Regions from separate parts of the Homo sapiens genome. Here all the other regions are reported to be linked to region 4. The links are microRNA targets in miRTarBase. Many come from high-throughput screens and were not tested one by one. Region 4 holds a microRNA gene; each other region holds the end of a gene's coding sequence.
What was found. The annotated mature microRNA hsa-miR-5580-3p reads CACAUAUGAAGUGAGCCAGCAC and lies in region 4 at 2,736-2,757, shown strand. An mRNA with a match to its seed (bases 2 to 7 or 8) in the 3' UTR can be bound and repressed. Matches are read on the target gene's strand: a 7mer-m8 pairs with bases 2 to 8, a 7mer-A1 pairs with bases 2 to 7 and ends in A, and an 8mer does both.

Region 1 (6,353 bases), not on the chromosome of region 4:
CCACTAAAGTCACAGTCATAATTGAAGTGCACCCAAAATAAGGTCCAGTGACTGTACCTTAGCTTTTACTTCAGACATGTCCAAAACTTGTGAGAACATACAATTTAAAGTTGAAAACTCATCATTTTGGGCTATTTTTGAATAGGGCTGAAATATGGTGACATGTCAGGCACTCAGTTTTTTGGAGCTGTCTTAAAGGTGAGGTGGAAAGTGAGAGATGATTTTGCTCTAATTACCCACACATTCTCCCTAACCCTCCATTTTAAGACACTTAGCTATAATAGCTTAAGACTATCAAAACTGCTTTTGTGATTCTCAGTAGGATCTAGTTCAAAGCCATCTCAGTGCTAGTGATTGGTAATTGTTAATTTGATGGTAATTACCCTACTTGTAAAGTTGACATTCATACTGGCTAATCCTCCCTGCCCCTAGTCGTGGACAATGAAACAGTGAGTGGCTGGTGAATTAGATCAGATTCAAACTAAGCCATTCCTTGATGCTATTCTTCACTGCTGTTCCTTAGGGTATCTAAATGTGTTATTTATAAACATTTTTGGGGGCTCCTGCCTGCAAACTTCGGTAGGTGTTGGTCTTCCCCACCTCTACAACTGAGCCAAGGACTTGTTCTGAAAGGTGAGTAATAAATAAGGGAACAAGGTTTCTATTTTCTGTGTTTGTAATTACCAGATTTTCACCTCTGTTTATATATTATTCTGATGTAAAAGAACCTCATAGTTATATAAAATTAGACCTTTTGTAAATAAATATAATTTATTAGAAAAAATGGTATCTTTTACTAAATTGGATTTGTGTCAGTTTTTTCCTTTAAGCACCACTCAGGCAGCAAGCTCTATGCTGTGAGAGTTGCTGGAGGCCCACGTTATGTTTTCTCAGTGTAATTCCTCTTTTTCTTGATAAAAAGACTTAAAAAAAAAAAAAAAACCCATCACTGATTTCACGTACATGTTTGTTTCTTCAGATTTTTCTTGGGCATAGATGGGCTGTTAGTTTAAAAAGAAATGGAAAACAAATCCTTTTGATGAAATCTGATAAATTCATCTTTGGAGACATTTCTGATAAAAATTAGGAAATATATTAGGGTTAAGAAGAGTTATCAAACATTAAATAGGTATGTGTGGCTGGGCACAATGGTTTGTGCCTGTAATCCCAACACTTGGGGAGGATGAGGCAGGCAGATCACTTGAGCTCAGGAGTTTGAGACCAGCCTGGGCAACACGGCAAAACCCTATTTCTAGAAAAATTAGCCAGGTGTGGTTGTGCGTATCTACAGTCCCAGCTACTCGGGAGGCTGAAGTGGGAGGATGGCTTGAGCCCAAGAGGCAGAGGTTGCCCTGAGCCGAGATTGTACCACTGCATTCCATCCTAGGTGATAGAGCCAGACCTTGTCTAACAAACAAAATGTGGATTATGGAGCGAGTATAAGAAATGTATCATCTATTTATTTTCCAGTGTAAAATCACCTTATTCTACAGAGAAGATTCCAGTATGTTGAACCAAAGCAGAGTCAGTGATGGGTATCAAGCCCTATTCTATTGAGAGCAGAGTTGAGTCAGGATGGCCACTGGGCACTGCAGTGAATTTCAGTGTTAGATGATGGGGAGTGGGGAACGTGAGTATTTAATTCAAAGTCATTGGTAAATACCTTTTAAAAGAAAGATGAATGTTACTCTATCTGCCTCATTTGAACTTAACTGCTGTAGTTGAGTTTGAAAACATTCTGAATTTGTGGAATATTAAAAGATTTTTCTTTTACCATTAGGCACCAGTCTGATGGTAAAACAAAAGTAGAGATCCTTACTGATCGCAAGACTTTTTCTCTCATAAAATAAAGCTTCTAACACATTGTATAACTGGTTTAGTGGAAAGTGCACTGAATTGCGAACAAAAGACCTAAGGCTTTATTATAGGCATTTATTAGATTGCACCCTGGGCAAGTCAGTTTGCTGAGTCAGTTTCCCAATGTGCACAACAGTGTTAAATACCTCACAGGCTTCTTGTGAGGAATAAAGATTATTGCCTTTAATCTGTAAGCAGTTGTGTGTGACAAATGCAAAGTACGCTGTGGTAGTTGTGACAATAATTATATAAATTATAATTCCTTAAATGACTATAATATATATGCCTCTAAATTTAAGCCACTTGAAAGGTATTCTAAAATTTAAAATTTTTCTTGTTTCCATAAAAAGAACATATGAAATGTTACACATAAACTTTTGATGACTGGGAGTTTTATTACAACTGTTTGTGCAATGGGGGCCAAACTGCTTGTTTGCCTTGCCAACTGGTATGGTTATTGGGTGCAGGGTTAACTATGCAGTTAATATATAGCCTATTATCTTTATTTGTACAACATCCTAATTGTAACATTTGGTGGGGCTGCTGGGGGCGTTGTGGCATTTCACCAAACAAAGGTGCTGTTTACCTAGAAGGTGTATGTTTATAAATGCAATTTTGGAGATGTAGTCTCACTTCCAAGATCCATTGTCTATGTTTTATATAGCAAGCGGTCAAGAGTTCACATAGGGAGGAATCCTTCCTGACGTTTACCAAGTATATTTGGATTCTGAGTTCAAATAGCAAGATATATTTGTTTCTAGAAGGTAAGTCTACATAATATTGCTAAAACCCCCTAAATTGTACCATTGAAAGATTACAACATATTACAGAATAGTAGTGTAAATAGTTTATTATTTGCTCATATGCCATGAAAAGACCAGAAAAGTAACATGAATTGCTTTTATAAAACATTCTAATATTGCTAAGAAGCAGGCCCATTAATAGACAAACAGAAAAGAACATGCCAACGTTGTCTATTTGTAGATTAATAAATAGGCAATTATTTTAATATACATATATGTCAGCATTGAACTTTGGAAAACAGCTGCTTTGTAGTGGAAGTCCAACTTGGTCAAATTGCTATTTTTAATCGAAGTGAATGTTGAGTCCACAGAAAGACAAAATCGTGGCATGTTCTTTTTAAAGTAAAGTACACATTTATGGGAATGTGCCCGCAGGTGGCAGTTTAATCTTTCTGTAAATAGGTACACTAAAGTGAAATGTGGTAGGTAACTTGTTCCCTAAACTGTCCTTATAGTTAAATATATATATTAAAAAAAACTATAAGTTAAAATAACATTCAGATTGTATAGCATAGGCTGATGCATTTTAAAACAATATTTACAATATTACCCAGAGGCTTAGGTGGGAATTAAAGAGAAGTGTAAAAACCATAAAAAACTGCACCGATTTTATAGCAAAATATCTGTACATTTAAAAAGATCATATAACTACACATCCAAGGAAAAGGGACCTTCACCAAGGGGTTCACATAAGCACAACATAAAATAGGAACTTCAGCGGTTAAATACTATACAATAAACTTTACAATTAATATATTGATGTACCAAGAAGATAAGCCAGAAGCAGAATGTATATTATGAAAAGTACAAATTTAGCTTCAGTCCAGTTTTTGACTTTGGAATGGATCAAGTGCCCTGCCAGAGAGGAAGGAAAATAACAGTGGCTTAGTGGGCCATCTAGTCCCATTACGTATTATTTAAGCTTAATACCATGTTAATACTTTTCAGCAACTTAAACTGCAATTCTCCATAAGTAGTCTGGGAAATGCATGAAAAACTTAGCCTCGATACACGATGCCAAGTGTATCTTCTTGAATTTATAAAAAATAAGAAAAAATTGCGATTGTCAGAGGAGAGTAAGGCCAGGTTCCTAACACTACTCTGCTAGCAGATGTAACCTTGAATGCTTGTTGATAGAGCTAGTAAACTTCCTTGCAAGGCACCAATTTCTGTTCTCAGAATTAATAATGGTCCTCAGAAATGCTAATGCTGATTACTGAGATGTTAATTTTAATGCTAATAAATACACTTGCATTATTTAAAAAGCTGCCTCTAGCTGAAGAACACAGTACTGCAAATAAGTCTTATACACTATATCCCCACATTCATACTAGTGAATGCCTCTCACAGAGCATCGTTCTCTAGCGCAGAAGTAGTAGAATGTGAAACTGGAAACAAAGGATTGAGTGACCTTTGTGCCACTGCAGTTGCATCCTGTTTGCACTTTGCCAGGGCCTGGTTATAGACAAAAGGAGTTTCATCATGTGACTTTCCTTCTTCCAAATTGCAAGTAAAATACAAAGTTGATGGATATGGCTAAAACAAAATTCCTTCGAAGACATCTCAGCAAAGGACCCACAGCAGATGCATTGATGTTATTTACAACATCAGGAAACCAGGTGGGCCATGATGGGACAATCACAATGGCAGGTAATGAGTTTAATAAGAACTTTACATTTTGGTTAAAAATAACATACTGGTGTAAAAAGATACCTAATCAAATCAAATCCTATTGCTTTGATTAATCTGAACAGGTACTTCCATTTTTAGGCACTTGTTAACAAGGGTTGAAAGGAGAGCTCATTTTAAAATTCTTCCGTGTTTGCTAAATCTGAGCCCTTAAGAATATTTTTGTGTGTGTTCAAGGCTGCAGTTAAATCGTAGCACATAAAGTTCATGTGGGCAGTTTCATTCACGCACACCCTGTATTCATGCAGGCCAGTCTCAGGTTCACATTGTTATTTCGGCACCATTAACAGAACGCAAGTTCTGATCATCAAAGCGCCGCCTGACGCTTCTCCTCACCGCATCGGCTCGTCTGTATGGTTGGTTTCTAAGATCTGTAAAGGGGAGAGTGCCAGTGAGAGAATAGCAACCTTTAATAGCATGTGTCTAAGCAGGACAAAGGCCAGCTGGCAGCCAATCAAAGCAGCTTGTGTAGAAAAGTCAGCTAATGGGCCCTTCAAACTCACTGAGCATTGAATCAAAGACATAAAACATTTGCCTTCAATATTTACAATCAAACAAAACAGGATGTAATACTGGTAGGATTCTAGGACTTTGAGAGAAAAATACATAGATTATTTCTGTCACTGGCCAGAGTCTAGCTGAAGTCTTATTTTGAAATGTTTCTTAAATTAGAAGCAGCTGTAGCTTAATTTTTTTGTTTTGTTTTTATTCTGGAAGCCTGAATGAATAAATAGTAACTGCAATAAATTTTAAACTGCAAAATTAATAAAGCAGACTGTCCTGTCCCATCTTTTCCTCGCAGTTTTAACAAGAACCTAAAGACCTTCAGTTTGCAGATAAGGGCTCTATTATTTTCATTCCATTAAGCTAGCTGAGTTTATTATTTTGTAAATTTTAAACAAAATGATGTTCAATTAACCATTAAATCTAAACCAAAATAATAATCTATTCCCTGGCATCCTTTTCTGCCACCTATTTTTTTTAAGAAATGGGGTCTTGTTATGTTGTCCAGGCCAGACTTGAACCAGTCTCAAGCGATTCTCCCACCTCAGCCTCCTGAGAAGTGGGGACTACCGAGCTCTACCACCCAATATTTTTTATGTTACGTCAGCAAGAAGTAGTTGTGTGGGCCCTCCTGCATAAGAAAATCCTTGTTAAATGAATGAGTCAATCACTGCATACCAGTCCAAATAGGCATTGCTCTGTCAGGATGAAGTGGGAGGAGCAGAGGAATTTTATACAAGAACTCAGTATGAAGGCATGCTTTCTTGAGTAAGTCAGGTAGCTAGCCAGCAGGCTAGGCTATGCAGCCTCCCTTTGATGAAGTCAGGGCATAGTGAAAAAAGTAAAGCAGGCTTTATACTTTTCCTGTTTAATTAGTATTTACTTCCCTTTCATTAACTTAGTATTGTTGACTTCTGCTAGAATACATGCTATCTTTAGAAAGGGAAATACAAACAAATAACAGAATTAAACCAAATTGAATCTTTTGTATCCCTTTATCTACTCAACAAGTTGAAAATGCAGCTGATGGACCACATTTGACCCACAGAATGTTTGCTCCACTGTGCCCCCCCACCCCCCGCACATGTACAGTTTCCTGGTGTTTAAATTGGTAATTAACATAAAGACCAGGGTTTCTGGCTTCTTTTGAAAAACTGGAAGATCTGGCAAAACCGGGCCCCAGTTCCTACACAGCAAAAAGAAGTTGGAGCTAAGATCTGTGCTCTAGGTTCAGCACAGTTCCTACCAGGCCTGTTACCTTCCTGGCTCCTTGACTCATTGGAATTTGTGTGACCCTGCCCTACTCTTTTCTGGGGGGGTGGGCGGGGGTTGTGAGGGGAGGACAGTCTCTGTCACTGAGGCTCGAGTGTAGTGGTGATCTCTGCTCACTGCAGCATCCACCTCCTGGGCTCAAGGGATCCACACATCTCAGCGTCCCAGGTAGCTGGGCTACAGGCATTTGCCACCATGCCTGGCTAACTTTGTTTGTTTGTTTTTTTT
Region 2 (6,353 bases), not on the chromosome of region 4:
AAAGAATTACCTGGTCACACCCCCTCTCCTGTACAACAATGGTCAGAAGCAATAAGGGTCTGCACAGACACATTTGGCCTGTAAAGGCAAACATGCAAAAGAAATGAAACATGCACTTGATGTGGTTTCTGACCAGGTCTGACCAGGTTGCTAATCCTCGTCTCCATTTTTCAGAGAGGTGAAAGGTTTTTTCTACAGTTCACTTAGCAAGAATGTCACAGAAGATGGAATCAGACTCAGGTCCTCTAACTCCAAATCAGTTTACATGGTTGAGTGAGCATTGCAGAGGAGGAGAGAAGGAAGGAGTGGCTTGTTCTTACAGGTTTTCCCTCTGACATTATCCTATGAAATTACTTGTGGGATTTTTTTTGTCACAATTATCTTGTCAAATAGCCATTTAGTAGTCCACTACCATTAAACTTACGTTCACTCTTTGCCACTTCCATCCAAGAAAAGGAGAATGATTTCTCCAATGATAACTGTATTCCTGGATCATAGCTCTCTTATTCAACACTTCTTAGCTTCTCCAATAAAAGCTCCTTCTCTGCAATTTACCTGGTATGGTGGAGAAAAAATTACACATACACACACTTTTCCTTAGAGGGTAGTGAACAAGATTCATATTACAGCTGGAATAATTGAGTTATTAAATACTCCTGGAGGCAAGAGACTGACTGTTTGATAACCTTTATCCTTGAGAAGAATTAAGCTGAGACAGAGCATGGAGGTGTAATATTTTTAGAGAGGGCAGCATTTGTGAAGAGTCAATTCCTTCCCCAAAGCCACAGGTGGGGGCAGCAAGAGAAAGTCTTACTAGGTTTTTTAAAATTTAACTTTTTATTGAAGTATAATACACACAAGACATATATTAAGGGCATAGCTCTAACAATTATCACTAGTGAACAAAAACTGTGTAGCCAGTACCCCGCTATAGAGAGGATGCACCTGACAGCAGTAACAACCATATCCTGAGAACGACCCTGTGATCTAAAACGAATGTGTGCTCAGAATCCCAAACTAAGGAAACAGGAGCGACTAACCCTGAGTTTCACTCCTTATCTATGAAGGACGTCTGAACCCCCAGCCCATCCCTTACAACACAGGCAATATAGGGGATCAAGGTCCTTTGCTTTGGGTTAAATGGAGGTTGCTAGGTGGAGTGTGCTAAATGAAAATGCTATATAAACTGCATGCTTTTTACAAACAGTAGTGGTTCTTCTGTCCAGCCTACTACCACTGGACCATCCCTATATATAAGTTCCCCCAATAAACCCAAGTCTTGTTCGCTGTCTACGCATCTTCTTTGGACTCTCGGACACAGTGCCATTACTATTGGAGTCACTAGGGGTCTGGCATGACACCAGCATTGCTAGCTTCCTAGAATCTTCTTCTGGTCACTACTCTTCTGCCCTACAAGTATACCATTAATCCTGCTTCTAAGAACATAGATTCATTTTGCCTGTTTAGGGACTTTATGTGCATTAGTTGTACAATATGTGCTCTTTTGTGTTTGGCATCTTTATTTCAACATTATGTTTGCAGGATTTGTCCATAGTGCTATGCTCATTCTCACTGCAAAAAGGATTCCATTGTGTTAATATCCCACAATTTATCCACTCTACTATTAATGAACATTTGGGTAGTTTCCAGTTGGAGCTATTAACAAATTATGGTGGACACAGGTATGCATTTCTGATTAATATATTCCTAGGACTGAAATGACTGGGTCATAGAGTATGCAAACTTCTAGCTTTAGCAATTACTAACTTTTCCAAGTGCTTGTACCAGTATACACTCAACAGTATATGAAAGTTCTATTTGCTCACAACTGCACCAACATTTGCTTCTCTTTTAATTCCCAACGTCACTCCACCTGATCTATTTTATTTTAACCATTATAGTGAAAGTGGTGTGGCATTGTGGTTTTAATTTGCATTTCCTTGACAATAAAAGAAGTTGGATGCCTTTTCAAATGTATATTAGCCATTTGGATCTCCTCTTTTTCTCCTATTCAAGACTATTGCCTCCCTTTCTTTTAGGTGTGTTTTTCTTACTGATTTTTTTTTTGCATTTGTTTTCTTTGCAAATGAGGATAAACAGTTTATCAAGTTATGTAGTCATTTTTTGTCAATTGCCAAATAAATGACATATCAGTATCAGACATATATATATATACATATATATGTCTGCAGCTAGTTCTTACTGAATGATTGCAATGTCTTTTCTTCATTAATTGTTTTGTTTTATTTTGAATGCTTACAATGTAAAAGGGACAAGATACATATCCTTTAACCCTGTATCTACTTTATCATTTAGTTTTATTATCTAAGACATTTTACACTGAAGAAACAACAGCAAGTAAAGCTTACACAATTTCTCATGTCACATATCAAGTTAGTATAAAAAACTGACTGAAAGGATTCCAAAAATCTGTGCCTAACCATACTCCCATATCTTCTCTATTGATCTACTCATCTTCTATCAATATGTAATTACATTAACCTCATCTATGTCATATAAAGCACATCTATCCCATCTATTTTAATTCTATGTATTGAAGTCACCAAATTTGTATTACCAGCCATGACATGACCCCTGATCTGCAGAATACTTTGTATCTCCAATTGGAGGTTTAGTAGATGTCTAAAACTCAGCATCATTCCCTTCACCTAAAGTTTTTTCTCCTCATCCTCCCCAGGTTAGTAAACGACACCATCATCTACCAGTTCTAAAGTTAACAAAAAAGCTGCCATCCTCAGAGCTTGCAGTGAGCCGAGATCGCGCCACTGCACTCCAGCCTGGGCGACAGAAGGAGACTCCGTCTCAAAAAAAAAAAAAAAAAAGCTGCCATCCTTTTTTCTTTCACTTTCTAGTTTACTCTCATCAGCAAGCCTTATCAATAATACTACCTTCGAATGATCTTCCAATGCAATCATTTCTGATCATTTCTACTTCTCACACATGCAGGTCCAAGGCATCATTGTCCCTTGCCTAACTACAATAGTGTCCTAATTGCTTATTTTTATTTTTTGAGGAATAACATATATACAGTAAACTATAAAAACGTGAAGCATATAGATATATGAATTACGTATGTATCAAGTGTCAAGATAAAGAAAACTCAGCATTCCTAAAGCTTCCCCATGTCACTTCTCAAACATCCTAAAAAGAAAAAGAAAAAAAAATCCTTTCTTTCTACAGAGGTACGTACTACTCTACCTTTAATCACCATAGACAAGTTTTTACTGCTTTTGAACTTTAGAATTGAATCATACAGTTTGTACTCATTTCTACCTAATTTCAGTCAACATGTTGAGATTGGTCCATACTGTTTCACATAGCAAGTGTGCCTTATTTTCTATTATTATGCAGTATCCGATTGTATGATTATATCACGAATTTTAGCATTTTCGAAATTCAGATCATTTCCAGGCTTTGGCTATTAAGAAGTAGCAACTAACCTTATTACACGTTTTTTTTCTTCCTTGCTTAGTAGAAAAACAGGCTCTTTAACATTTTTAATAAATCTCTCACAAACTGCTGCTCCTAGATTACAAAAAGTCAAAGCCAATTCCTTGAATCTGAACTTCAAGTCACCATAATAGAAACCGGAGCTGCTGTACCTTACATTCTGAAAGGTACCTCAACAAAAGCACATCAAGGACTGTTTAAAACTTCTAGTATTTAAAAAGATCCATCTTTCCTTCCAATGCCTATGGATGATAACAATAAAAGGAGAACCTTAAGAGATCTGCTATTGAGTTTGAGAAGGCCAAATTTAATGATTCCAAACTCCAGCCTTAAATATTTCTGTAGAGACTCTGAGAAATTACCTCTCCCTTGTCTCCACTCCCACTGGCTTCCTCAAGCGCAGATGCCTGGGACCCTGTATGATTAGTCAAACAGTCTTACCAGTACCATCATTATGCTTCTCTAAAGGGCTACTAGTGAAAGAAGCTGCTTTAATTTATTTTAGTTTTTGCCAATCTTCAGTCCTTAGAAAAGTCTTAATTATTTAAAAAAAAAAAGGGTTGGGGAGGTGGTTAACTGTTCTAAGGCATTCAACAAGAGGAAACAGGTACCTTTTATGAAAAGGACTTTCAAGTTAAGTCCACAGTTTAACTGAAATAACTTTACAAGAACGTCTCCACATAAAACTCTTAACACCTTACCCCTGGCAGCCGGATGGATGCGATCTATATACAACACGTCTCTTAAAATGCTCTCACAGAAACGGTAATAAGATACTCTTAACTTCCTTAAGTCAAATCCACATTCGGCCGCGCTGCCACCTGCAGAATTAGCTGAAGGGGAAACAATAAAGGTCCTGCCGGACAGCCATGAGCAGCCCTGGTGCTGCTCCCCGGATGCCCCCGAGCCGAGAAGCGAAGGCCACGCTGGGAATGTCGTCCTCGGAGGCAGAGTACGGGGAAGGGATGGTTCTGAGCAGGTGGGCATCATGGAGGCTCCAGATTCTCGTGTAGCAGTCCTGGCCCACTGCCACCACGATTCCCTCTTCCTCGTGCACATGCAGGGGCAGATAGGCGGACTCATTCACGTGACCTTCGTACTGCCTTACACATTTAGTGGCCCTCAGATCCCACAGCTTGATCTTTCCAGTCATGTCTGATGCCATCAGGCATTGCTCTTCTTGGAGGATTTGCACAGAGGTCACTGCTGAGTCATGGAACAGGCGAGTGGCCCTCCACCCCTTGCCTCGATTTCTACAACGCAGATCAATGGCAAAGATCTCCCCGGAGCGACAGCCATTAAACAGCAAAGGAGCCGTACTAGCAAACTGCTGGGCCAAGACATCACTGCTGGTATCAAATGACTGCTGGTGTCCCGTCGCCACGCTGGTCAACAGGACCTGCTGAGACAAGCCTGCACTAAAGCAGTGATATGCCCGGGTGTTGAGGGACCACGCACAGGACCAGGCCTCTGGGATCTGGAAACTGCAGAGCATGCCAGGCTGGTTAACTCTTGTGTGAACACTTAAGAACCGCGACGCTGGGAGCAGCACTGCACAGCTTGGAGCATCTGTGATTCCCTCGAAGCACAGCAGAACGTGAGAGTCCAACTGGTTCAGCGAGGCCCAGCACAGGGACTTCACCTTCCGGTTGGGGACGTAGAGGTTTCTGAGCACGTACACGTGGAACGAAGGGATCTTCAGAGTTCGCAGGCTGATGATGCCGTACTTGGAGCCTTCGACTTCGACCTGGTTCACTACGAAGAGCTGGTCGCTGTTGGTACTCGCCAGAATGAAGTTAAATCGGTCGCTCGCCAAAGAGGAGGGATCCAAGCTCCGAATTTGGACCTTTTTCCGCTCCATGCAGCTCACACGCAGCTCGTTGGCTAAACGGGAGTAACTGGTGACGTTGAGGAAACCTAGCTGGCTTTTTCGGAGCATGGAAGATGCATTAAATCCCATTCTGGCTACCTTTTTCAGCTTGGCCTCTTCCTCGAGGAGTCGCAGCCTTTCAGCCTCCATTTCCTCCTGCGGAATGTTCCTCGTGACAGGAAATTCTGCAGGATGTTCTTCTCCGTGACAGGATGTTCTTTTCCGTGACAGGAAGTTCCGTCCGGGTGCAAGCGGAAGTGTTGCTACTTTTTATCCTCTCTATTCTAGGAGGAAGTCCATTGTTACAGATGTGTATTACAAATCTCTTTTCCTACTCTGTGGGTTGTCGTATTCTCTCAGTGGTGTCTTGATGAAAGGAAGTTCTTGATGTTAAATTTTTTCCTTTCTCTTTTTGAGACAGGGTCTTGCTCTTTCACCCAGGCTGGAGTCCAGTGGCACGACCACGGCTCACTGCAGCCTGGAACTCCTGGGCTCAAGTGATTCTCCTACCTCTGCCCTACTTAGCTGGGACTATGGGCTCACAACACCATGCCAGGCTACTTTTTTTGTAAAGATGGGGTCTCCCTGCTTTGCCGATGCTAGTCTGGAACTCTTGAGCTCAAGCAGCCTGTCCGCCTCAGCCTCCCAAAGTGCTGGGATTACAAGCATGAGCCCACGCGCCCTGCCTGTATTTCTTATTTTTTTATTTTTTATTTTAAGACGGAGTCTCGCTCTGTCGGCCAGGCTGGAGTACAGTGGCGCGATCTCGGTTCACTGCAAGCTCTGCCTCCCACGTTCACGCCATTCTCCTGCCTCAGCCTCCCAAGTGGCTGGGACTACAGGCGCCCGCCACCACGCCTGGCTAATTTTTTTTGTATTTTTAGTAGAGACAGGGTTTCACCGTGTTAGCCAGATGGTCTCGATCTGCTGACCTCATGATCGGCCCGCCTCAGCCTCCTAAAGTTCCGGGATTACAAGCGTGAGCCACTGCGCCCGGCCGCCTGTATTTTTA
Region 3 (5,975 bases), not on the chromosome of region 4:
TGTAATTTTTGTAAAGACAGGGTTTCACCATGTTGCCCAGGCTGGTCTTGAATTCATGGGCTCAAATGATCCACCCACCTTGGCCTTCCAAACGGCTGGGATTACAGGAATGAGCCACCACACCTGGCTAAAAGGACGTTTTATTTAAGTTTGTTAAACTAATTTAAAATTTTAAAATATTTAGAGATCTAGTATGTTGGCTTCCATTTATATTCTTACTTCAGACACCACAAAAACGTTAGAGATAGGTCTGTTTTGCCTTTGCTTGAATAAACAAGAAAAAAATTGGCTTCCAGAACAAGTAAAAATAATCAAACTCTCTCATTTAACAGGAGAAACAGCCATTAAGAGAAAAGTGAGGTGAATGGAAGCTATGGGAAAGATTAAGTATTGAAATATTTAAAAGGGCCTAAAAGATAAAAGTCACCAAGGAATCACTTTTTCATTAAATTAAAGCTTTGCTAAAGTTAATTTTATTCCCAACCATGATGTTCACTGTGTAAAGGTAACATAATATACTACATAAGGACTCAGAAATAGAAAAATACAACTCAAAAATTTATACCAGACCATTAAGATATGAATCAAATTTAAGAACCAGAAAAAAAAAGGTAGTCACAATTTAAAAGTTCTCTATCATCCACAGTAGATCGCCTCTACAGTGCTTCCATATCAGCTGTTTTCCTTATCTCCAATGACTTTCCCAATACTAATAAATATTTTTTCTTATGTCCCATTCTTCACCTCATGATGAATACACCTCTTGCCTTCATAACTATATAAAACTGGTGCTAGTCTCTCCTGGCACTTAATAACACTGGCTTAACTCTTTACACTTTACCAACCAAGTCAAGAGTAACACATCTGGCCATTATAAATCTCAAGGAATGTAAATAACAACTTTTTGTATCTCTAAAATTAATTAGTAATCTTCCTTCTCCGTAGTCAGATATATCCTTAAAACTCCAATCATTTGACATGAGATGAAAAATCAAAACCCAAACAGAAATACATAAGATAACTAAGGAAAAAGCAAACAACATGAAAAGATGCTCATCATTAATCATTTTAGAAACAAAAATTAAACCATAATGGGACAGGACTCCTCATCCACTAAAGGCTAAAATTAAAACGACAGCTAAAAATACCAAGTACTGGCAAGGATGTGGAATACTCTGACCCCCCCAACACACATTGCTGTTGGGAATGTAAAATTTCAGCAAATTCTGAAAACAGTTTAGCAGTTTCTTATACAAACACACTTACTATAATACAACAACCTTAATCTTAGGTATTTACCCAAGACAAATGAAAACATATAACCACACAAAGACTTATATACATATGTTCATAGCAGCTTTATTCATAACAGCAAAAAAACTGAAAACAACTCAAATGTCCATCAACTGGTAAATGAATTAACAAACTGTGGTATAACTATACAATGCAAATACTACTGAATAGAAGATAAAACAGGAACTACCTACTAATACATGTAACAATATCAGTATCTCAAAAGTATTACATTAAGTGAAAGAAGCTGGACACAAAAGACTGGTTATTTGAAATTCTAGAAAAGGCAAAACGAAAAGTGACAAAACGCAGATCAATGGGTTTCGAGGGGATAGAAGTGGGGGTGAGGGATTGACTACAAAGGGGTAAAAGGGAAATTTTTAGGTGATACAAATGTTCTATATCAGCTGGGTGTGGTGGTTCACGCCTGTAATCCCAGCACTTTGGGAGGCCGAGGCAGGTGGATCATGAGGTCAGGAGTTCGAGACCAGCCTGGCCAACATGGTGAAACCCCATCTCTACTAAAAATACAAAAGTTAGCCGGGCATGGCGGCGCGTGCCTGTAATCCCAGCTACTCAGGAGGCTGAGGCCAGAGAATTGCTTGAACCCGGGCAGACGAAGGTTGCAGTGAGCCGAGATTGCGCCATTGCATTCCAGCCTGGGTGACAGTGCGAAACTCCATCTCTGGGGAAAAAAAAGTTCTGTATCAAGATTGTGGTGGTGGTAATTACACTACTATATGTTTGACAAAATTCACTGAATCATATACTTAAATTGGTTAATTTTATTGTATATAATATCTTAAAATTTATTATATATAAAATAATACCTAAAGTTTATATATATCAAAATGGAACAATGGTAACATGATTTACTTTGCTACATTTCCAAATATTGTCCAGGGAGGATGTATTATTTTAAAATCAGAACAAAAATCCCATTTAAAAGCAATTAGCATATTAAAAATATATAAGTATACATGATCACAATGACTTATAAATAAATACAAACTCAGAGCTAAGAACAGAAGGAAATTTACCACTATTTATTTTGGGTAAAGGAGTACTAAAATTCCTCCTAAAGCTTTTGTATAATTCATAACTTTTAGGGGAGGACTTTGTTTTAAAAATGCAGTAATAGAGAATGCCTTGCAACAATTGGTGTAAGTTTATCTAGAGCTTTTGCCCAAATTAATTAATTGGGAAGGCATCACATGTGCTCACTGTTCAACGATGCTTTTGAAAGATTATTCAGTAGTTTAATTTCTTTTGTTTTTTTCCTGAAAGTTTCTGTTTCAGGTTTTTTTTTTAAGAGTTATTCTCTGCATTACTCAAAATGATGAATCAAACAGATTTTCCTTCTTAATTTAATGTCTTATTCTTTAAAATCCACTAAAGAACAAACAGTTCTTAGACCTGGAATGTATTTTCTACTCAGTAATGCCCTATTTTGTAAACAAAAGAAACAGAATGTAAGTAGCACCTTGGATTAAAATGTCCAACCTAATCAGCTGTGCAGAAGACATAAATTGGAGGTAACAATAACTGCTTTAATCTCTGTGAATGCCTCATCAATTAAATAATTCCTCAGGAACATTTTCCCCATTCATATGGGAATTACATACTGGTTTGCAAACACAGAACCAACTAATAATCTTTTTTACAGAATCTCTAAATCCTTTCTTCCAAGACCATTTTGGCCAACTGACTGGATTTAAACTGGATAATAAAAGTAAGGGAAAAAAAAGCACAAACAGAAACTCTTACAGAGCAAGAAAGACCAGATGGTCACCTCGACGTTAGAGGCAAAACCAGTATGCTCTAATATTGTGACATGACTCTAATGCCAGCATTCAATGACAGACAGATCACTTTTAGAAGAACAGCCAAGATAAAGGATTTGAGACATAACAGGTAACACACATTCCCAGGATTGGGAGCAGTACCTGAACAAGTGCTGTTAATGGATCACTGTAGCATTATCAATACATCCCAGTCATTGTATGATACTATTAACTCTTTCGGTTTCCTTGCATTTATTGGAAGGCACATTAAAATTTGCATTCTTTGGAGTGCAGCAAGATGCTTTTCCTGTTTCTTTCTGCAGCATGTCCAGCACTTTTACACCTTCTGTCAGACAAATAGGTTAAAACTCTTACATTGCAAAATCAAGAGTATAATACTCAGTGATGGATAGTGTATGTTTCTGATTAATACCCTTTTTGCCAAGTTAAAAATACCCTACTAGGGACCGGGTGCAGTGGCTCATACCTGTAATGTCAGCACTTTGGGAAGCCAAGGCGGGCAGACTGCTTGAGCACAGGAGTTTTGAGACCAGCCTGGGCAACATGGTGAAACGGTGTCTCTACAAAAAATACAGAAATTAGCTGGGTGTGGTGATGCATGCCTATAGTCCCAGCTATTTGGGAGGCTGAGGCAGAAGGATCACTTGAACCCAGGAAGTCGAGGCTGCAGTGAACCAAGATCACACCACTGCACTCCAGCCTGGGTGACAGGGCAAGACACTGTCTCCAAAAAACAAAAAACAAAACAAAACAAAACAAAAAACCAACAAAAAACTAACAATATCCTATTAAAAGTGGCTTAAACAATTGAAGGGTTTTTATTATATCAACATAAGTCCACATGTAAAGCAGCTCTAGAATGGGTTAATTCTGAAGCTTACCGGCATTATCAAAGGCTCTGGTGAGTTCTATCTTTCCACTGAGCTAACCTCAGTCTGAGTCCGTGTCTCCTTGTGATCATTAGTTGGCTGCAGCAGTTCCAACTATCAGAGTCAGAAAAGACAATGTCCAGAGAGAGCAGGATTTCCTCCTCTAAGCCTATTAGTGAGTAAAACATTTTTCAGACACCCCCTTGAAGATCACTTCTCAGCTGCCATTCACTAGGACATGTTTATGTACTCATGCCTTATCAATTACTTATAAGGGGGATAAGACCACATGTGATTCATTTAGAACAGCAGGATTCACCCTTAGGGAAAGGGTCCAACATACCTGGACACAGAGCTGCACAGAAGGGAACACCAGAATAAGCAAGCAAGAAGGGAGGGACAAAATAGTTGCTGGCCGGCAACCAACAGTATTTATCACAATCTGATAGGGCTGAAAATGTACAGCATGTGTTGTTACACTATTCCTTGGCGAAGAAGATAAGTAGCAATAAAATAAAAAGTGTAATATAATAGATTGTTAGACATTTACGAAAATATTTCAGGGACAAATAACAACTAAGATTCAGAGAGTACAGGCACTAGCCTATGTGCTTTACATGTATTAATGTACTTCATCCTCACAACTGTTACATGTACAGTTGTCCCTCAGTATCTGTGGGGGACTGGTTTCCAACCCCAACCCCTCAAATACCTAAATCCATGGATGCTCAAGTCTTTTATAATAAAATGGCGTAGTATTTGCATGTTACCTAGGCACAACCTCCCATATTCTTTAAGTCATCTCTAGATTATTTATAATACCTAATACAATGTAAATACTATATAAATAGCTGTTAAACTGTATTGTTTAGGGAATGACAAGGAAAAAAGTCTGCACATGTTCAGTATAGACACAACCATCCTTTTTTTCCCCAAATATCTTCTATCCACAGTTGTTTGAATCCACAGATGTGGAATGCATGGATATGAAGGGCCAACTGTATCTTACAAGATAAGGAAAAAGGAGAGAAGCCAAGACACTGACTAACTGACAGAGCTGAGACTGGAACTGAGGTAATCAGGCTCCAGACCGTGCTCTCAATTGCTGTATTATGAGGCACAGGGTGATATAAAAAGGGCACGTGTTTTAAAAATAGTAAAAATATCAAATGAACCAAGCCATAGGTGAAAATGTAGAAACCAATCCAAGAGGTTGGCTGAGATTTAACATTGTACATTTTATTAAATACTGGACTTTATTACAACAAATTAATTTACTTCCGATAGAAGTTTCATTTTAAAAAATGTGGTTGTGTTCAAATTCTTAATTGACACTTGTTTTGGGGTAAACATCCTATTTTTACTGGTGGTATCATCAATCATTATGAGCAGAAAGATTAATTTTGTATAACAGAACAAAGGAATTTCTCAAGTGGTACAATACTCAATATATATAAAGGGAATATACTCCCAAAGAGTGGGCATGACCACAGCAGAGTATATGATCAGAGAACATATTGCTTTTATGGTATATATATATATATATATATATCTCTACATATAACATCAAGTCATGCACATTAAGTCTTTACTACCTACTGAAGGCTTCTACCTTACACATGAAAATTGTTCATGTCCCAGGGTTTGGCATCCAGCCAAAATTTAAACAATGATGAAGAATGGCTGTCAAACTGGCTTTTCAGACCACCCCTGAAAAGCTGTCAGCTGTAATATCCATCCTGGAATCGTGGCGGAAAGTTCCTGGGAGTTGCCTTTTCCTGTGTTTTGATCAAGTCTATAATAGCTGACAGTACTGCACAGTCTCTGGATTTAGTGTCATTCCAGTCTACAGGATGAGGACTTTCAATCTTCTCTTGCAGAAGAATATCTAGTTCCTTTCTTAATTCCTAAGGTTGGAAAAATTATACATGTTCAACAAAGGCAGATATATTACCAAATAACATAATAAATGAAACTAATTTACCTGATACAAGGAGTTTCACAAGCG
Region 4 (6,353 bases):
TTGTGGTGCCATAGAGGAGTTGACACATAGAAATTATTAGACATATCAAGGAGGCTGGATATAGTTTCTGTCTTTGGTGCTTGAGAAATGCTAGCTACATTTTGCTGGTTTGTTAGCTGCCCCACTTATCTGCTCCTTCAAATTAAGGGGTATGCTTATTTTCCCCCAGTAGGTTTCCCCTGCATAAGCAGAATTCACCATTCATTGCCCAACCCTGAGCTATCTCTTGACTCTTCCATCTTTGAAAAAAGTTCATATGCTTTTTCTTTTCCCCTTCCTTCCTAACTGTGCCTAGAACATCTGGAGAACATCCCAGGGACCAGTGAAAACTCTGCTTTTCGTTTCCTCTTTAACCTCAGCAGCATCCCTGAGAACGAGGTGATCTCCTCTGCAGAGCTTCGGCTCTTCCGGGAGCAGGTGGACCAGGGCCCTGATTGGGAAAGGGGCTTCCACCGTATAAACATTTATGAGGTTATGAAGCCCCCAGCAGAAGTGGTGCCTGGGCACCTCATCACACGACTACTGGACACGAGACTGGTCCACCACAATGTGACACGGTGGGAAACTTTTGATGTGAGCCCTGCGGTCCTTCGCTGGACCCGGGAGAAGCAGCCAAACTATGGGCTAGCCATTGAGGTGACTCACCTCCATCAGACTCGGACCCACCAGGGCCAGCATGTCAGGATTAGCCGATCGTTACCTCAAGGGAGTGGGAATTGGGCCCAGCTCCGGCCCCTCCTGGTCACCTTTGGCCATGATGGCCGGGGCCATGCCTTGACCCGACGCCGGAGGGCCAAGCGTAGCCCTAAGCATCACTCACAGCGGGCCAGGAAGAAGAATAAGAACTGCCGGCGCCACTCGCTCTATGTGGACTTCAGCGATGTGGGCTGGAATGACTGGATTGTGGCCCCACCAGGCTACCAGGCCTTCTACTGCCATGGGGACTGCCCCTTTCCACTGGCTGACCACCTCAACTCAACCAACCATGCCATTGTGCAGACCCTGGTCAATTCTGTCAATTCCAGTATCCCCAAAGCCTGTTGTGTGCCCACTGAACTGAGTGCCATCTCCATGCTGTACCTGGATGAGTATGATAAGGTGGTACTGAAAAATTATCAGGAGATGGTAGTAGAGGGATGTGGGTGCCGCTGAGATCAGGCAGTCCTTGAGGATAGACAGATATACACACCACACACACACACCACATACACCACACACACACGTTCCCATCCACTCACCCACACACTACACAGACTGCTTCCTTATAGCTGGACTTTTATTTAAAAAAAAAAAAAAAAAAGGAAAAAATCCCTAAACATTCACCTTGACCTTATTTATGACTTTACGTGCAAATGTTTTGACCATATTGATCATATATTTTGACAAAATATATTTATAACTACGTATTAAAAGAAAAAAATAAAATGAGTCATTATTTTAAAGGTAAATCATGATTTTTTTTTTCTCCTTAATCCTTTCTCTTTTCCTTCGGGCTCATCTCTTTTGAATGAGGCTTTTTTCTGTTCAGGTGAGTTGGAGGCTGGATGGAAGTCAAAAGGTGGTACCTGGAGGTGGTTAAGTTGTAGGGACAGGAAGTAAACTGTTGGCAGAGAGAGATGGTAATTGCCAGCATGAATTGTTTTCTATTTCTATTTAATGTTAACAAGGATGCAGTATCCTCTCCCATCTGGATGACACATGCCTTGGAGAAACACTGGGATGAAAGGAGTGTAGGTCAGATTAAAGACTTCATTTCAGGCCCCTTGTACATCTTCTGTTTCACTCACCTGTTGAGGTGTATCACAGCTGAGCGTGATGAGGTCTCAACCCTAGAAAAATGATACCCACCTCTGCTTTCATGATACCTCAGGGTATCTCCAGTTATTACAGGTACCAATGTGATATTTCCAAATCAAAACTAATTTGTACACTAACATCATAATGTGTGTGTGAAGGCATGTTTTTAAACTTATTTTTTTTTTCTCCAGGTAGGACTCTTTTGTTTTTTCTTTTGTCTTTTTTTTTTTTTGAAACAAGTTCTCTCTTTGTTGCCCCAGGCTGGTCTTGAACTCCTGGGCTCAAGCAATCTTCTCATTTCGGCCTCTTTGGGATTACAGGCATGCACTGCTATTTTGTCTTTTTTTTTTTTTTTTGTAACAAATAATGTACCCTACCTTCAAAAAGTTTGATGACTACTGTTTTAATATGCCACTTGATAGAATTTCCCATTGTTTCTTGACTTTTTCCCTTGTCCTCTTTTCCCAATGTGAAGGCCTTCATCAAGTTTAGGATCCCAACAGATTGGGCTGGGTGGGGGTTGACAATGGGGTCAGATACTAAAGGGTCAGAATTTCTAAGCAGGCACTGTGAAGGTGTCCCACTATTATACAGAAATCTCGAGTCAAATGTCAACTCTCCTTTTCGCTCTGTACTGCCTCCCTCACACCCTCTTCCCTGGACTTGGGCAGAAAGAGGTAGATCTGATGTTCTGTGCTAGGGTTTCTTAAAGGGAAAAGCTCAATTTTTGGACAAAGTTAATAAAAAGGAGGATGCTAATGTACCCTCAGTTAAGGGCTCCCAGCAGGCAGATAAATGCCTTTCTGGAATGACGGGTGTAGGGATTAAGAGGAGCAGAGGAGAGGCCTTTGCTTTTTCTTACTTGCCACCAACAACTAAATTAAGCCTTGAATCTTGGTCTGTGCTGGCTCATTTCATATGTGTGCTGAGAAAATTCACACATATGAAGTGAGCCAGCACAGACCAAGATCCCTTTGGATCCCTTTGGAGCAGAAACATTTAGTGTCTTTGTATGTTCTCTGTGGGGAAGGCTGATAGCGCATTTCTCCATCATGAAGGTGTAGATATGAGCGGTAGTATTGCTGTTGCTGGTGGTGTGTGCACCCAAAGAATGTGTGTGGTGCACACTCCTGGCGTTTGCATTTTTCTAGGTGGGGTGTGCACCCTTGCATTCTTGTACACACTTTCTTACATACGCTCCTGGGAGTGGAGTGGGTGAAGCAGGATTCATTTTTGTTTTTAATTACTGAAGTCCTACACTCCTCCAAAAGGAGCAGCTTAGTGGAAACCAATAAAAATTGAAGCGGGGTGGTTGCCAAAACCCCAGCTCCCCGGAGAGCGCAGGTGGAGAGAAGACATCAGAGCCCCAGGCAAAGGCAGCAAGACTACACAGTTCCTCCAAAACTCCCCGCAAAAAGGGATCCTTCCCCCACCCCTCCAACCCCCCAGGTCGCTGCCCCTTTGATTAATGGTATGGAGCTCAAATAAATCATTTAGGGAAGCCCCTTATAGATTGCCCTCAGGCAGCCTCATTTTGTTTTGCCCAATTTCTAGCAACTTTCTGAAACGTCGATGTCATTGAAAAGGAACCAGTAGATCTCCAGTACTTGAACAAATTATCCTAGGGCCAGTACTGAGCCCTGTGGCTGTCCAGTTCTAGCAACCAGCCCCTTCCTCCATCCTCCCCGCTCCTACTGGCTTATTTTCAGGAATGGATAATGTTGTTTATTTGTTCAGCCAAATATTTGGTCTGGGGAATTTACCGTGAAATTCTGTGAATTGCATATACCTAGTTAACAAAATAGTCCTAATGCCACAAATGTTAGCATGGAAAACAAAGAGCTATGGCCAGCGTTAACTCTTTAAATTCTGTTTGAAAGCTTAGTCCTGAGACCCGGGGAGATTAAAAAAAAAATAAAAAAAATTGGATGTGTGTGATTTAGGTTTCGGCATTTACTATTTTTGCCTAATATTCAGTTCAGTACCTGACGGAAGTCGTAGGGTGATTCTCGGCGTTGCTTTTGGATCAAGCCTACCATTTCACCCCATTCATGTTTTTTTTTTTTTTTTTTCTCCAGAGTAATGTTCCTATTACTGAAAGAAAGATGGGGAGGGAAGCTCGCCCTTGAGGAGTTCGGCAAAGTCGTAACCACATCAGAGGAGCTGCTTGGTCGATCCCTACCCAACCCTTAAACTGGAACCGGCTTCCTAGGAGCTTAAAAAAAAAAAAAAAAGGTTGGGGGGGTGTGGAGTGGGACGCATCAAACATTCCCCTGCTTTCGTTGCATAATTCGCCCAGAACCTGCCAGGTGACCTGCTGACTTTGTTTTCTGTCTTGACCGTGCTTCGTTCCACACCCCCCTCGCCGCCGGGCAGCGCCACACTGAGAGGGCTCGGCGCGTCCGCGGCGCGGGCAGACCCCAGTAGTCACCCGGCCTTGGACTGGCGTCAAGATCCAGCCCCGCCGACCCCGCCTCCCGCCCGCTCTGGAGCTCCCAGGCCCGGCGGCGGCGGGGGCACCAGGGGGCGTCCTCCCTGCGGGGGACCAGGGGGACCGTGCACCTGGCGACGGCCCGCGGGAGCCGCGCGGCAGGCGGCCACCCCTCCCCATCCCCGCCGACCGCGGACTGCGGGTCCCCCAGCCCGGGCCCGAGAGCCGGCCCGCTCATCCGCCCTCGGGGACCCAGGCCTCAGGTGAAGCTCTGCAGACACAGACGGATCTGATTAGCGCTCGCTGGTCCTTGGGGCGGTCGCTCTGCAGATTTCATGCGAAATGGGGTCAAAAGGCCGCGCAGAAGCGTGGAGTCTGCAGGGGAAGGCTCCCCGGGGTGGAGGGGCTTAAGAGGGGTCGAGACCTTTAGGGGTTTTCTGTAGGGGGCAGAGAGCGGGAATTAGGGAGCGAGGCTCTCCTGCCTCCGAGCTCACAGTGGGCCTGCATATGGGGGTGACTCAATGGGAGCGGGGACGTGGGCGAGTGGGAAACAGGCCCGCTGGGTGAGGGTCGGACCTGCAGACTGGCCCTGAAGGCTGAGCCGCTGTCTTGGGCCCCTTGGGGACACGGAGAGCCCTGGGTCCCAGCTGAACTGCAGCCAGGGCCCCGCTCCCCAACAGTCGGGGGACGGAGGTGAACGGGAGAGGCCACGGGTGTGCAAGAGTGGAGCTGGACGATTGCTTTCAGAAATGAGATGCCAAGCCATGATACATAATGACAGCACCTCAGCTGACCTCCGCAGGGCCTCTGGACCGGGGACTCACCGTGCCCGCCCCCACTCCCTCTCCAAAGGTGAGCCAGGAGCATAAAGCTTATCCCAGGCCCAGGTCTCCGAACTATTTGTCATCAAAGATACTTTTGCTTCAACACAAAACCAATTTTACAAACTATTCACATACTCTCTTTTGAAAAGGAAAAGAATAATGCAAATGCAACGTTGGTGACCTTACATTACCTGGGAATCAGAAGGTTATTAGTATTCCCTAGGGGAATTTAGGATAACTGGTGGACTGCCAAATTAGAATTGATGCAAAGTTATTCAGGCTTACCTTGTGATACAAACTAGCACAATTCTGAAAACTATAACTGGAAATTAAATTCAGAGTGGTTAGAAATGTGGTCTAGGTGGGATTGCAAGGATCTCATTTCCCTATGCATTTAGCACCTAATGGCAGAATAAATAAACAGAACTGCAATGCTCACCAGTGGAGAAAAGTGGCTGATTTTAGGAAAAATGTCAAATTGCTCTAATGTTAAAAAAAAAACACACAGAAATTATTTTGAAAAAGGAGTCAAAAGTTCAAGGTGTGCAACTTTGAGTCAATTCTAGAAAAAAATCTAAAATTTTTTTTCAGCTTGGAAGCCATTTGAAATTACCATTCATAAGTCACTTTATTTAAAGCATTAACTGCAGCAAGTTCCAGTTGTTTCTGCTTTCGCTCGCTCTTCAAAATATTCTTTATAAACTAAGTGAAAATATAAAAGTTATAGTATGCTGTTCAGAACAAACAATTCAGAAAATACTGTCGGATTCCAAAATGTTTACCTCAAAAATGTGAAATTTGAGGAAAAGAAGACAAGATGGAAGAATAATTTGCTGCGTTGTGTTACTAATGAGAATTTCTGAAGTCCAGCTTTCAGTCAGTTTTGCCACATTTTCTAAAGAAAAGATCTCATTGATCTTTTAACTTTTTATAGCTTGATTTCTAGCAAAAATATTTTTAAATGACTACAAAGTTCCCTACCCCAAATCCTGGAACCTGGTAGCCTGGTGCAAGTAGATTCTAGTTTTGCAAAATTTCATTACTGTTACTTTAGCAATATGTTTTTTCCAGTTTTATTAACTGAAGCCCTCATCAGCAGATAATTCTCTAAACAGTCTAAAGCACACTGATTGAGATTTTAATTGGCTAGACTCAATAGTTTAGTCCTGTAATTATTTCTCTCTCCCTAAGGTACCAGCAAGTGATTCCATCCTGCATATAGTTGTCCATGATTGGGTTAAGAAAATGTACAACTGTGTTCAACTCAAGCTTCATGCTGATTTAATCTTTTAATCCTTGTC
Region 5 (6,353 bases), not on the chromosome of region 4:
GGCAATTAGAAGACCTCAAAATGGTTTTGGGTCTTGAAATGGCTTGTAGAGTATCAGCAGGTTTTTTATTTTTTTATTTTTTTTATTTTTTTGAGACAGGGTCTCTCTCTCTATTGCCCAGGCTGAAGTGCAGTGGCGCGATCTTGGGTCAGCAAAGCCTCTGCCTCTCAGGTTCAAGCAATTCTCCCACCTCAGTCTCCCGAGTAGGTTTGGGATTACAGGCGCACCACCACGCTTGGCTAATTTTTGTATTTTTAGTAGAGACAGGGTTTCACCATGTTGGCCAGGCTGGTCCCGAACTCCTGACCTCGTGATCCACCTGCATCGGCCTCCCAAAGTGCTGAGATTACAGGCGTGAGCCACCGCGCCCGGCCCAGGTTTTGATTTTGTAAGCTGTCTCCATTAGTTGAGACAGTTGTCAGCCAAAAGCCTTAGCTCACGTTGTATTCTTTCTGCCTGGCAAGTCAAGAGACCCTGTTTCAAGATGATTCCACCCTCTTGTTCTTCTTCCAAAAAACACTAAAGCCTTCAGAACCACTTTTCAAAAATAGGAACATTTATCTTGCTGATCTTTCCTTCTTCTAATTCTTGATGAAGGAAAGGAAAAAAGTGCATCGCAATACTGAAATTTAATCACTAGTCTAAAAGTCTTTAACAGTCTTCACAAAGGCATTAAATACTTTTTTCTATTTTTAGTAATTGTATTTGAGTTGCTGAAACACTGAAAGCATTTAAACAGTTTCTTCATCCTTCATTTCCAAATATAAGACAATTTTTTATGAGAATATAGGCAGAGCTGAAGTGACCATTTGAGAAAAGTTTAACTGGTAATTTCTTTTTTTTTTTTTGGTCGGAGTCTCGCTCTGTCACCCAGGCTGGAGCGCAGTAGCACGATCTCGGCTCACTGCAAGCTCTGCCTTCTGGGTTCATACCATTCTCCTGCCTCAACCTCCCAATTAGCTGGGACTACAGGCGCTTGCCACCACGCCTGGCTAATTTTTTTTTGTATTTTTTTGTAGAAACGGGGTTTCACTGTGTTAGCCAGGACCATCTGGATCTCCTGATCTCGTGATCCACCCACTTCGGCCTCCCAAAGTGCTGGGATTACAGGCATGAGCCACCGTGCCCAGCTGATAATTTCTTTAAAATAGTCTATAGCAAATGTATTTTTTTTTTTTTTTGACAGAGTCTCACTCTGTTGCCAGGCTAGAGTGCAGTGGCGTGATCTCGGCTCACTGCAACCTCCGCCTCCTGGGTTCAAGCAATTCTCCTGCCTCAGCCTCCCGAGTAGCTGGAACTACAGGCGCCCGCCACTACGCCCAGCTAATTTTTGTATTTTTATTAGAGACGGGGTTTCACCATCTTGGCCAGGCTGGTCTCGAACTCCTGACCTCATGATCTGCCCATCTCAGCCTCCCAAGGTGCTGGGATTACAGGTGTGAGCCACTGCGCCCGGCCTAGCAAATGTATTCTTGGTTTTGTTTTCAGATATCATATGACCTCAAGTTCATTTTTTGTAGAAATTATTATAATGTTTCCAAAGTTTAAATTATCTTACGGTTATTTCAAGGTGTCAATAATATCACACTGTCCCAGAGTCAGCAGGTATTCTCACAGTGACTCATGAGGCCATTTTTAGTTTTCCCATTTGTATGATTGGACACTGCCTGGAATAGTGTCCTGGAATAAGTGTCAGGAATATCTTCCTTTTGTTCTGGAGTTCTCACTGCCATGAAGGGCAGTATTCATATTGGGAAATGGAGATAACGGAAGATCCAGAGAACACAAATTGGCTTTGAGTCATGTGATTAGGCTTCCTGAGAGGTTCAGTGTCACCCTGACTATCTCCTTAGAAGTGTGGATGTTGAACCAGAACAGTGCTCCAGAAGGAGTGCTCAGTTTCATAGAGCAATCTGTGTTTTTTAGAAAAAGAATCCTTTTGCTAATGTAGTGAATATTGGGGGCAAGTTGAAATTTTGCATTTCCTAACGTCTTTTATTTATGCCTAGATGATGGACCATTTGGATTGTGCAACAAATGAAGAAAACCCTGTGATATCTGGTGAACAGATTGTCCAGCAATAATATTATGTGGAACTGCTATAATGTGTCATTGATTTTCTACAAATAGACTTCGACTTTTTAAATTGACTTTTGAATTGACAATCTGAAAGAGTCTTCAATGATATGCTTGCAAAAATATATTTTTATGAGCTGGTACTGACAGTTACATCATAAATAACTAAAACGCTTTGCTTTTAATGTTAAAGTTGTGCCTTCACATTAAATAAAACATATGGTCTGTGTAGTTTCCGAGATGTACTATATACAGTATATTTTTCTAAAAAAAAATGCCTTGACCCACCCCTATACTTTTTTTTAACGAAATCTGTTTCTTTCAGCTCTGATGGTAGATACAAGTAGTTACTATTTCTGAATGGGTTTTACTGTAAAGAATTATGCAAATTGGCCAGGCGCGGTGGCTCACGCCTGTAATCCCAACACTTTGGGAGGCCAAGGCGGGCGGATCACGAGGTCAGGAGATCGAGACCATCCTGGCTAACACGGTGAAACCCCTCTCTACTAAAAATACCAAAAATTAGCTGGGCGTGGTGGAGGGTGCCTGTAGTCCCAGCTACTGGGAAGGCTGAGACAGGAGAATGGCGTGAACCCGGGAAGTGGAGCTTGCAGTGAGCCAAGATCACGCCACTGCACTCCAGCCTGGGCGACAGAGTGAGACTCCATCCCAAAAAAAAAGATTTATGCAAATTATATCTGCTCTGTAGAAATAACTGTTTAACACCATGCAAGAAGGCGGTTCAACGGTGAAAATTTGGACCTTATATCACTGCAGAGGTTAGAAATACATAATTTTGGAAATATAAGTGCATATTTTTGTAGTATTTTTTTAAACCCAATCCTTTCATAAACTTGAGAACTGAAATTACTTCAGACTGCACGTGTATTATATTAAGAACATTTTTCCAGATATAGAGAAACATAATATATAGAACTAGTCACTAAAAGGAGACAGACACTGAAATCTAGTTTTCATTGGTTTGACAGCCTTTTTTTTTTAAATGTAGCTTAAATTTCAGTACTAACATTCAGTTTCACTTTGGTATTTCTGATCTTTGCAATTTGGTTCTGTTAATGTTAAGGTTTGATTTTTTAAAAAAATTATTTTTCTTAAGAAATTATGTATTAATACATATGGCTCATCGTTGAATACAGCATTCCTAACATTATCCCACATTCCCCCACTCCCACCCGTTATCTTTTTTTCTTCCTGATGCCCACCCCTTTTCCCATAGGTAATGATTCTTAATCTTGGTGGAGGATGTACAAAGTGCGGTTCAGAGAAAAGAATTGGCAACAACAGCAAGAGACTTGGTGTTAGTCTCAGTTTAATTACAATACAAGGAAGAGTTGAGTAATTTGCCGCATCTCAAGACCTTGTATCTCAGTTTTCTTTTTTTTTTTTTTTTTTTTTTTGAGACGGAGTCTCGCTCTGTCGCCCAGGCTGGAGTGCAGTGGCGGGATCTCGGCTCACTGCAAGCTCCGCCTCCCGGGTTCACGCCATTCTCCTGCCTCAGCCTCCCAAGTAGCTAGGACTACAGGCGCCCGCCACTACGCCCGGCTATTTTTTGTAGTTTTAGTAGAGACGGGGTTTCACCGTTTTAGCCGGGATGGTCTCGATCTCCTGACCTCGTGATCCGCCCGCCTCGGCCTCCCAAAGTGCTGGGATTACAGGCGTGAGCCACCGCGCCCGGCCATATCTCAGTTTTCTAATCTGTAAAATGAGTAGGTTAGACCAGCTAATCACTCTGGTACCTTCCAACTTGAAAAAAGTTTTTTCCCCATTCTTTGGTAAATTTTAGATGTGGCCTGAACATTCTCCTGGAAGTCAGAGGTCAAATTATCTTTCCATTTTCTTTTATTTTAGTAAGAATTTCGCAAATGACAAGTGATAACAAAGGCAGCAGGATTTTTCATTTCTCTGTAAATAATGTATAAAATATGTGAACAGAACTATATCTTTCATCTAAGGCCAGTTCAATTTATTAAAAATAAAACTAATGCCTTTTAAAATTGATCAGACCTTTGATACTTGAACTAAATTTTGCATTAGAGACTTTTTAAAAATTGTTCGCTTTTGCTGAATAAATTGCAAATAGAGAAGCTTCATTGACAGTCAGTCCCTCTCTGCTTAATGCAGTTATGGGTCCTTTCGTTTATGGCAAATGACTTACCTGACAAGAGTTAATTTTGCCTCCATTGTATCAAGTTTGAATATTTTCCAAGAAATCTGATTTATTTGGCAGACTCTGAGAGAGAGAACAGATTAAGTGCCGTTTTAAAACTCTGTATTTTCATTTATAATAATAAAATATTTGCCAAAATACAGCTGTTTTGTAAAATTATCTGCACCCTCATCCAAGCTTTATATTTAATAGCCTTAATCACATTTTATGAAGAATGTTAAAGAAAATTTTTTTTTTACTACATCGAAATGAGATAATTAATTTCTTTTTTTTTTTTTTGGAAATGGAGTCTCCCTCTGTCACCCAGGCTGGAGTGCAGTAGCAAGATCTTGGCTCACTACAACCTCTGCCTCCTGGTTCAAGCAATTTTCCTGCCTCAGCCTCCCAAGTAGACGGGATTACAGGTGCGTGCCACCACACCTGGCTAATTTTTGTATTTTTAGTAGAGACGGGGTTTCACCTTGTTGGTCAGGCTGGTCTTGAGCTCCTGACCTCATGATCTGCCCGCCTCAGACTCCCCAAGTGCTGGGATTGCAGGCATGAGCCACCGCGCCTGGCAAAATAAGATAATTTCTCAAAATAATTTGGTTTCATATAACTGGAGTAGTAATTAATATTTTAACTTCATCAACTAGATGTATCTCCTCAGTAGCATAGTAACTGGTACATCCAGAAATCTGAAATCCGAGTTACTTGATACAAATTCTACTTTATCTAACCATTAGTTATTAAGGAGGTAAAATCTTGTTCTAATTTGCTATTAAAATCTTATTGGTTAAATAGAAATAAGAAAAAGTATAATTAAGTTTCTTCATCCTCAATGTCAACTTTATATTGTAATTAAATGTGTAGCAACCAAGCTGACAATAGTGATTAAGAAATTAAAGTACAGAAATATTTTATTTGGGGACTCAAAATGAACAAAAGATAGATAAGATTAAAATTTCACTTAAAAAGCTGCCATCTCTTCCTCTCTTGCCCTCCCACCACCAATAACTTTAAGGGGAAGAGAAGCTGGTTTTTTCCCTAAACATGTCTTTAAAATAATGATACACTGTATTTATTAATTCTTGATGCAAAAAAAAAAAAGTTAGAAAATCCCTTTGAACATTTTTGTGGCTTATCAACAGAAATCACTATCTCAAATTGTAATGTAGATTACTTTTGTCTCAGTTTAGTTTAGCAAAAATAAATGTGAGGCTTGTGGGGAAAGACCTTGATATTCTAATACATTATATTTTCTTCTAGCTTGTAGATTTTTTTTTTTTTTTTTTTTTGAGACAGAGTTTCGCTCTTTTTGCCCAGGCTGGAGTGCAATGGCATGATATCAGCTCACTGCAATCTCCGACTCCCGGGTTCAAGCAATTCTCCTGACTCAGCCTCCTGAGTAGCTGGGATTATAGGCATGTGCCACCACACCCGGCTAATATAGTATTTTTAGTAGAGACGGGGTTTCTCCATGTTGATCAGGCTGGTCTCGAACTCCCAACCTGAGGTGATCCGCCCGCCTCAGCCTCCTAAAGTGCTGGGATTACAGGCATGAGCCACCGTGCCTGGCACTTGTAGATTTTTTTTTAGATTAGCAATTCCTTAGTAGAATCTGCAATTTATTTCTCTTTTAAAGAGAATTTTAACCCATCTGCTATTGGCATTCTTATATTTTACTTGTCCATAGAGATTTTAGTGAATTGATACATTTATAATAAATACAAATGAGCTTTCCAGTTTTCTTTGCTCTTTCAATTTATGCTTTAGTATAAGCAAAAATTACTATTTTTACATTTTTAAAAATTGTGGGTACATGTAGGTGTATATATTTATGGAGTGCATGAGATGTTTTGATACAGGTATGCAATGTGAAATAAGCGGATCATGGAGAATGGGGTATCCATTCCCTCAAGCATTTATCCTTTGAGTTATAGACATATTTTACATTTGAATAAAAAATATTTGAACTAAGGCCGGGTGCGGTGGCTCACACCTGTAATCCCAGCACTTTGGGAGGCCAAGGCGGGTGGATCATGAGGTCAGGAGTTTGAGACCAGCCTGACCAACATGGTGAAACCCCGTCTCTACTAAAAATACAAAA

Region 1: the mRNA of FMNL2 is a reported target of hsa-miR-5580-3p. Seed matches in the 3' UTR shown: 7mer-A1 at 2,869-2,875.
Region 2: miRTarBase lists DCAF4L1 as a target of hsa-miR-5580-3p. Seed matches in the 3' UTR shown: 7mer-A1 at 2,279-2,285 and 7mer-A1 at 2,174-2,180.
Region 3: miRTarBase lists DHX36 as a target of hsa-miR-5580-3p. Seed matches in the 3' UTR shown: 7mer-A1 at 5,523-5,529.
Region 5: miRTarBase lists SPPL2A as a target of hsa-miR-5580-3p. The part of its 3' UTR that is shown has no 7-base or 8-base seed match.

What each region holds. Positions count from the first base shown.
Region 1 is chr2:152,646,163-152,652,515 of GRCh38, reverse strand. FMNL2 (formin like 2) reads right to left here. Exons shown (of 26, transcript NM_052905.4): 26 at 2,690-4,720. The coding sequence ends at 4,611. It overlaps PRPF40A (pre-mRNA processing factor 40A), which reads left to right. Exons shown (of 26, transcript NM_001365597.4): 26 at 1-784. Among named protein-coding and RNA genes, the nearest start is that of PRPF40A, 68 kb to the left of the region's middle. RefSeq lists enhancers at 1-603, 5,705-6,353.
Region 2 is chr4:41,980,931-41,987,283 of GRCh38, reverse strand. DCAF4L1 (DDB1 and CUL4 associated factor 4 like 1) reads right to left here and starts at 5,528. Exons shown (of 1, transcript NM_001029955.4): 1 at 819-5,528. The coding sequence starts at 5,491. The coding sequence ends at 4,301. RefSeq lists enhancers at 4,266-5,038, 4,598-5,797.
Region 3 is chr3:154,270,483-154,276,457 of GRCh38, forward strand. It overlaps DHX36 (DEAH-box helicase 36), which reads right to left. Exons shown (of 25, transcript NM_020865.3): 25 at 2,064-5,874. The coding sequence ends at 5,689. Among named protein-coding and RNA genes, the nearest start is that of DHX36, 51 kb to the right of the region's middle.
Region 4 is chr14:53,944,831-53,951,183 of GRCh38, reverse strand. It overlaps MIR5580 (microRNA 5580), which reads left to right and starts at 2,700; the gene lies at 2,700-2,757. It overlaps BMP4 (bone morphogenetic protein 4), which reads left to right. Exons shown (of 4, transcript NM_001202.6): 4 at 296-1,448. The coding sequence ends at 1,152. RefSeq lists a silencer at 4,285-4,334 and enhancers at 4,305-4,835, 4,836-5,368, 5,709-6,353.
Region 5 is chr15:50,703,531-50,709,883 of GRCh38, reverse strand. SPPL2A (signal peptide peptidase like 2A) reads left to right here. Exons shown (of 15, transcript NM_032802.4): 15 at 2,010-6,353. The coding sequence ends at 2,084. Among named protein-coding and RNA genes, the nearest start is that of TRPM7, 20 kb to the right of the region's middle.